Homo sapiens: one gene and its partner. The protein of the gene in region 1 purifies or fractionates together with the protein of each later gene. This does not show direct contact. Each region holds a gene or a part of one and is shown on either strand. Other genes may lie near its edges.

Region 1 (3,821 bases):
AATTAAATCATGACCACAGAATTCTCTTCAATGATTTATTTGCCCTGTTATGAATAAAATTTAGGCAAAGAGGTCCCATAACAAATATCGACTGCTTTAATGAGTGGTTAAAATTGCATAATATGAATCATTTTGGATTTTATTTTTATTTTTTATTATACTTTAAGTTAGGGTACATGTGCACAACGTGCAGGTTAGTTACATATGTATACATGTGCCATGTTGGTGTGCTGCACCCAGTAACTCGTCATTTAACATTAGGTATATCTCCTAATGCTATCCCTCTCCCCTCCCCCCACCCCACAACAGGCCCCCATGTGTGATGTTCCCCTTCCTGTGTCCATGTGTTCTCATTGTTCAATTCCCACCTATGAGTGAGAACATGCGGTGTTTGGTTTTTTGTCCTTGCGATAGTTTGCTGAGAATGATGGTTTCCAGCTTCATCCATGTCCCTACAAAGGACATGAACTCATCATTTTTTATGGGCTGCATAGTATTCCATGGTATATATGTGCCACATTTTCTTAATCCAGTCTATCATTGTTGGACATTTGGGTTGTTTTCAAGTGTTGCTATTGTGAATAGTGCCACAATAAACATACGTGTGCATGTGTCTTTATAGCAGCATGATTTATAATCCTTTGGGTATATACCCAGTAATGGGATGGCTGGGTCAAATGGTATTTCTAGTTCTAGATCCCTGAGGAGTTGCCACACTGACTTGCACAATGGTTGAACTAGTTTACAGTCCCACCAACAGTGTAAAAATGTTCCTATTTCTCCACATCCTCTCCAGCACCTGTTGTTTCCTGACTTTTTAATGATCGCCATACTAACTGGTGTGAGGTGATATCTCATTGTGGTTTTGATTTGCATTTCTCTGATGGCCAGTGATGATGAGCATTTTTTCATGTGTCTTTTGGCTGCATAAATGTCTTCTTCATTTTGGATTTTAAAAGTTGCGTATTTTCTCATATAGGTACAACGAATATTATTGGAATTGGACATGCAAAACATTCAAGATAACCTTGCTAAACATTTAAGTGAAGGACAGAAAAGAAAGCTGACTTTTGGGATTACCATTTTAGGAGATCCTCAAGTAAGTGAGATTATGCATGGGGAAGGAAGCAGGTCGAATGTCTGCAAAATGTCAAGTTCTTTTACCACTAAAAGTGGTAGAGCTTTCATTGTAATGCATCAAGAGAGAACCTGCTATGTTTAACTATAAATAGAAGTATATTGGAGAAAAATGGCTGGATGGTTATTATTTTATGGTATTTATTGTTTTTCATGCTATCTTCTGGATACAGTTAATGTGAAAGAGAGACATATTTTATATATCTTCATTCTCTGTAGATTTTGCTTTTAGATGAACCAACTACTGGATTGGATCCCTTTTCCAGAGATCAAGTGTGGAGCCTCCTGAGAGAGCGTAGAGCAGATCATGTGATCCTTTTCAGTACCCAGTCCATGGATGAGGCTGACATCCTGGCTGGTAATTGTTGGTTTTATCTCAGTGTTACCATGATGCAATTGGGGAATTTAGAAGCGAGGTCTATTCCCAGGGTAAGAGCCCTGCTCTCATTATGGTGATGTTCCTACATTCTATAGCAGTCAGGAGGACGACAGGAGTCTAGTTCCACTGTGGAATTCCTTTCTGGTTGTACATTTGCTAGGTAGTGACAACTAATGAAAAATTCTGATTACCTTTTTTTTTTAGATCAGCTGTCAATTAATTTAAACATTCAAATCTTTTTTTATATATATTTAATTGAAAAATAGACACTTATTCTTTAGCATCAGAGTATACAGTATACCATGTAATTTATGTGTTTTTTTTTTCAGAAAGTATTGGAAGGTGCAGATAGACTGGTGTTCATGAGCTTATTTTATTTTAAATTTAATTTATTTGTATAAATTTAATGAGTACAAGTACCGTTTTGTTACATGGATATATTATGTAGTGGTGAAGTCCAGGCTTCTGGTGTATTCATCACCAAATAATATACATTGTACCCATTAAATAATTTCTCATTCCCCATCCCCCTCTGACTCTCTCACCCTTCCGAGTCTTCAGTGTCTATTACTCCACACTGTATGTCCATGTGTACCCATTTTTTAGCTCTCACTGATAAATGAGAACATGCAGTATTTGACTTTCTGTTTCTGTGTTGTTTCACTTATGATAATAGACTCCAGTTCCATCCATGTTGCTGCAAAAGACATGGTTTCATTCTCTTTTATGGCTGAATAATATCATGAGTTCATTTTAAATGCATCAATTTTAATATGTATTTCAAATGTTAAAATGCACACTAGATCTAGTTATACCCTGTTGAATACTTCTCCTTTGCACTTCTGAGCCTTGGCTCCTCGTCTTTCTTTACTAGAGAAAGAAGAAATGACCCCCAATATCTTTTCTCCCTTGATTTCTTTCATTCAGATAGAAAAGTGATCATGTCCAATGGGAGACTGAAGTGTGCAGGTTCTTCTATGTTTTTGAAAAGAAGGTGGGGTCTTGGATATCACCTAAGGTAAAGACTTTGGGAATAGATTGGATTTATGTGTTTGCAATACTGGTATATGAAAAAGGTGGACAATTATGAAACAGAACTGGCCTCGTGCTTCATCTCTACCATACTGGATTGATCAGTGTTTCCTGAATACTTTTTTTTACTTTCCTTCCTCCTGTGTCTTTACAATGTTAATCATTGGCAACATTTCAACATGATAAACCAAGCCTGACTTTTCACAGCAAGACTACTTCATGTGCCACTTTTCTAGGTAGCTGTTCTGTGCAGCCTAAACCTCTACCTGCTTCCTACCCACATTTTCCTCAGCTGATCCATAGAATTCTGAAATATGTTTTCATTCTTTCATAGGGCAAAAAGGCAAATAATTTCAGAAGCCAGTATCAACAAGGAGAGAATCTAGGGGCAGAAAGTAATGATAACTGTGGCTAACAAAAAAGTGTATATATTAGTCTGTTCTCATGCTGCTAATGACATACCCGAGACTGGGTAATATATAAAGGAAAGAGATCTAATTGACTCACAGTTCGGCGTGGCTGAGTAGGCCTCAGGAAACTTACAATCATGGCAGAAGGGAAAGCAAACACGCCCTTCTTCACATGGTGGCAGCAAGGACAGATGCAGACTGAAGGCAGGGAAAAGCCCCTTATAAAACCATCATATCTCATGAGAACTCACTATCATGAGAACAGCATGAGGGTAACTGCCTATGATTCAGTTACCTCCCACTGGGTCCCTCCTATGACATGTGGGAATTATGGGAACTACAATTCAAGATGACATTTGGGTGGGGACACAGCCAAACCATATTGGTGTATATCCAGGCTAAAATAATTGTTTAAAATAACCCTATGGCCAAACAAAGCATGCATGTGGGCCAGATTTTCTCTACTAGCTAATGATATGGTCTGGTATAATAATTATTTTCCCTAAGAAGTCTCTTCTTCCTAACATTCTCAGCTTCCTACATTTATCTATAACTATACATATAAAACTCTATATAGTTCCATTTACATTATATATTTGTTTGTATATTTTGTAATTGTTCTGAGCTTATACATTTTCCATATATAGATTATAAAATTTTCAAACTGATAGATTACTATCATGTTAGTATTTACTCATCTTTTTGTTCCATAAAGCCAAGTAAAGTTGTGCTCAACAGCTAGGTGTTCAATTAAAGCTCTTCTTTTGTGATAGTGGTGGAGAAAATGCAAATGACTTATCTTTTCTTTTAAATATTAGTTTACATAGGAATGAAATATGTAACCCAGAACAAATAACATCCTT
Region 2 (3,821 bases), on another chromosome or scaffold:
ATCACCCACTAGAGGTATCCCTTACAACTCTCTCACACGACCCCAAAAAGGTCTGGATGTTTGCATATACCACCACGCTACCTGTACTCCATCCTTCTGTCCAGGGGCTGGCAAGCTTTCTTGGACAAGGACCAGATAGTAAGCACTATAGACTTTTTTTTTGAGACAGAGTCTCACTCTGTCGCCCAGGCTGGAGTGCAGTGGCGTGATATGGGCTTACTGCAAGCTCCGCCTCCCGGGTTCACGCCATTCTCCTGCCTCAGCCTCCCCAGCAGCTGGGACTACAGGTGCCCGCCACCACGCCCAGCTAATTTTTTGTATTTTTAGTAGAGACGGGGTTTCACCGTGTTAGCCAGGATGGTCTCGATCTCCTGACCTCGTGATCCGCCTGCCTCGGCCTCCCAAAGTGCTGGGTTTACAGGCGTGAGCCACTGCACCCGGCCTCACAAATCTTTCTTAAACTACAATACTGGCTACCATTCCTATTAAAACAGCCAGCAGAGGCAGCTCCCGGGCAGCGTGCGTGCAGTGAGCAACCCTGCTGCTGCCTGCTCGGCTCCCACAGCCCATCACTCGGCTCCCACAGCGCCCGCACCGCGGCCCATGACTGCCTGAACACAGACGCCGCCAGCCAAGATGTCAACCCGAATTCTCCTCACAAAGGCCTGCCGTCCAACTCCATGACCAATGTCCCTGTTGACACAGGTGGGGCTGCCCAGGCTACTGCTGTTGAGGGTCTGACAGAGGCTGAGGAGGAAGAGCTCAGGGCCCAGCTACCAAGACGGATGAGGAAACTGTCACTCTACACCAGTGCTGGCAGCCAAGGAGGGGGACTGTGGAGAGCTTGAGAGGAGGCTGGGCCTCTCTGCCTTGGAGGCTGAAACGGAACCCTCTCTAACGCCTATGTGAAGACTTCTGAGAAATGTGGAAGTGGAATGAGAAAGTGGCCCACCCGGATCTCTGCAAGACTCAGGAAATGCTCCCACAGCAAGACAGAAGACCTCAACCAAGACAGAGACCTCAGCGGCCCTGTCCATGGTGGGCTCTGCCATCAGTAGGAAGCTCGGAGACGTAAGGAAATTTGCAACTTTCAAGTCGTTTGAAGACCAAGTTGGGCCCATGAAGTCTAAGGTCGTGGGTGACAGAGAACAGCAAGGACAATCTCCCTTCCTCAGCAGGGAGGGGCGACGAGCCCGTCGGATCCCGCACCTCTCTAAGCCTGTGGTCGCTTACGCTCAGCTGCAGAGCACACACACACACCCTCAGCATCACAGCCGGAGCTCTGAGCAACAAAGCGGCCAGCCAGGACGCACACGCAGAGCCGGCTTTGAGAATAGTCCTGCCCATCCACAAGGAGACGTGGCTACCGCATCCACATGAATTTCAACAGTTGTGTACATAGTTATATACTAAAGTTTGTAGGTGAAACAGATAACTGTGCTGTCCTTCCTAGGGGTACAGGAAGTGGACAGGGCGGAGGATTTGAAATACTGAGCCAAAGCCCAGGCTCCCTTTAAGAATCACGTTAGTGGCCAGGCACGGTGGCTCACGCCCGTAATCCCAGCACTCTGGGAGGCCAAGGCGGGCCGATCACGAGGTCAGGAGATGGAGACCATCCTGGCTAACACGGTGAAACCCCATCTCTACTAAAAATACAAAAAAATTAGCCAGGCATGGTGGCGGGTGCCTGTAGTCCCAGCTACTCGGGAGGCTGAGGCAGGAGAATCAGTTGAACCCAGGAGGAGGAGCTTGCAGTGAGCCGAGATTGTGCCACTGCACTCCCACCTGGGAGACAGAGCAAGACTCTGTCTCAAAAAAAAAAAAAAAAAAAGAATCAGGTTAGCCCATCAGAATGTTGAAGCATTGAAGAGTCCTACGCATAAGTGGCATTTTTGACCTCCTCCTTCCCTAACTCACAGAAGGAATGCAATCACCCAGAAAGCCCTACCTGTTCCATGAGTTTTTATCTTGAAATGCTAAACAAGAAGTGTCCATTTCCTGCCCACAGAAAGTAAACTGAATATCAACAACTGCCCAATTGTTGTACTAATCTAGCTTTAATGAAAAGCAAATTCATTATTTTTTTTTAATGCAGTGGACTTTTCAAAAATCGAAATTAGGCAAAGCAGCTTTAGCCTCCTAGTGAGAGAATATTATTTCTTTGGACTCAAGCTGAAATTCAAGCCTCACATTACCTCATGCTTTATTTATCATAAACATATAAATGAGGGTTGCTCAATGGCTGTGAGTACTGTGTGGGATTTTACACCTGGCCTGTGTGACTGCCTGTTCCAGTTGGGGTGTTGGTTTCACTAACACGCTCCATCCCAGTGTATAAAACTTGCTTCTCTTCTCAAGCAGGGCAGCTCCCCTGGCTCCCTACTCTGCCCTGAAGGACTTTTGGGCTCCCAGGGGTGGGAGGGGCTAAGAGAAGGAAAAGCCTGTCTTTAGCACCCTTTAGAAGAGCTGTGCCCGCTTCCCAGTGCTGCCTTGCATGGGCCTGGCCCGGGGGGCACTCATCAGTGACTCCAACCCGCCTGCTGGCTGCACTTCAGATGAAATGACCCCACAGGTCAGGTGGAGGGTGGGGCATGGGCATCGGCCAGGATTGCTGTCACCTTTTCTCCGGAGCTACCAAGATCGTTCCTGTTTCTAAGCAGTCGCACCCCAGCAGCCTCTCTCTCTCCACAGCCCTGCGTGTCAGGCAGCCTCTCTCTCACACCACAGCCCTGCGTGTCAGGCAGCATCTCTCTCTCTCCACAGCCCTGCGTGTCAGGCAGCCTCTCTCTCTCTCCACAGCCCTGCGTGTCAGGCAGCCTCTCTCTCTCTCCACAGCCCTGCGTGTCAGGCAGCCTCTCTCTCTCTCCACAGCCCTGCGTGTCAGGCAGCATGGTTTGCAGGGGCAGCTCTGTGCCTCAGTGGCTCTTGGTAGGACACTGAGGGCCTGCCTGTGGTGTGCACAGCTCTGCCACTCCCGGGAGGGGAAGTGCTGCTCAGCTCAAGGTGTCCTGTTCGGCAGAGGAAATGTCCTCTGACAACCGTGTCCCCAGACAGTTCAGACACCCTCGGGGACAGCATCGCACACACGACGACAATGCAGGGGCCAGGGAACCCCAGCGCTCGGTGCCCTTTGTCCAGTGGGATGTGGTAAGAAGGCAGGTTGCAGGGGTGTAATTGATGTATCTTTTCCCCAAAGTTATTATACTAATGAGTAACTTGTCGATAAAGCATTCTTTTGGGGAAAGACTTTTAACCAATTAAATAAAGAAAGCGTGAGTGGAGGGTGTGCACGCACCATCTTGTCGGGGGTGTTGAGGTACAGGTCCACCACGTAACGGATACGCTTCTGCAGCATGGCCTCGTCGTCATCAGGGTACATCAGCCTCATGAAGTCAGGGTTCTCCAGGACGTCCAGAGTCAGCTGGCAGATGGAAGCCTGGTTCTCTTTGGCAGCAACATGCATCACGTTGTACCTGCACCCTTCCTGAAAGAGAACCGCATGCTCTGAGCTTCCTATCTGATGTGTGGACACGCCCTGTGCGAGTGCTGCGATGGAACGGCCGGGACCGCACACCTGCCCGAGGGAACCGCCGAGACCTACCTGCACGATAGTGGGGTTGTCTCCTGAGCCTATCAGATACCGGGGGTTGCTCCAGATAAGGTCAGAAAAGGTGTCCTCCTCTCCCTTCTCCACAGCTTTCCGAAGCTTGGCGGTGAGGTCCTGCGTGCGGGGATTTTTGTAACTGTTCGCTCGCTCTTTGTTGACTGTTTCTGATTCCGACAAGCACAAACCATCTGTCAGTAAGAGACAGAATTTAAGA

The links.
Region 2: the proteins of ABCA6 (region 1) and ANKLE2 purify together in Homo sapiens (affinity purification with mass spectrometry; one large-scale study listed by BioGRID and IntAct). This does not show direct contact.

What each region holds. Positions count from the first base shown.
Region 1 is NC_000017.11:69,110,896-69,114,716, reverse strand, and holds part of ABCA6 (ATP-binding cassette sub-family A member 6), read left to right. Parts: intron 1-979; coding exon 980-1,099; intron 1,100-1,356; coding exon 1,357-1,495; intron 1,496-2,443; coding exon 2,444-2,534; intron 2,535-3,776; coding exon 3,777-3,821. UniProt on the Homo sapiens protein: Probable transporter which may play a role in macrophage lipid transport and homeostasis.
Region 2 is NC_000012.12:132,744,537-132,748,357, forward strand, and holds part of ANKLE2 (ankyrin repeat and LEM domain-containing protein 2), read right to left. Parts: intron 3,796-3,821; coding exon 3,602-3,795; intron 3,485-3,601; coding exon 3,296-3,484; intron 1-3,295. UniProt on the Homo sapiens protein: Involved in mitotic nuclear envelope reassembly by promoting dephosphorylation of BAF/BANF1 during mitotic exit.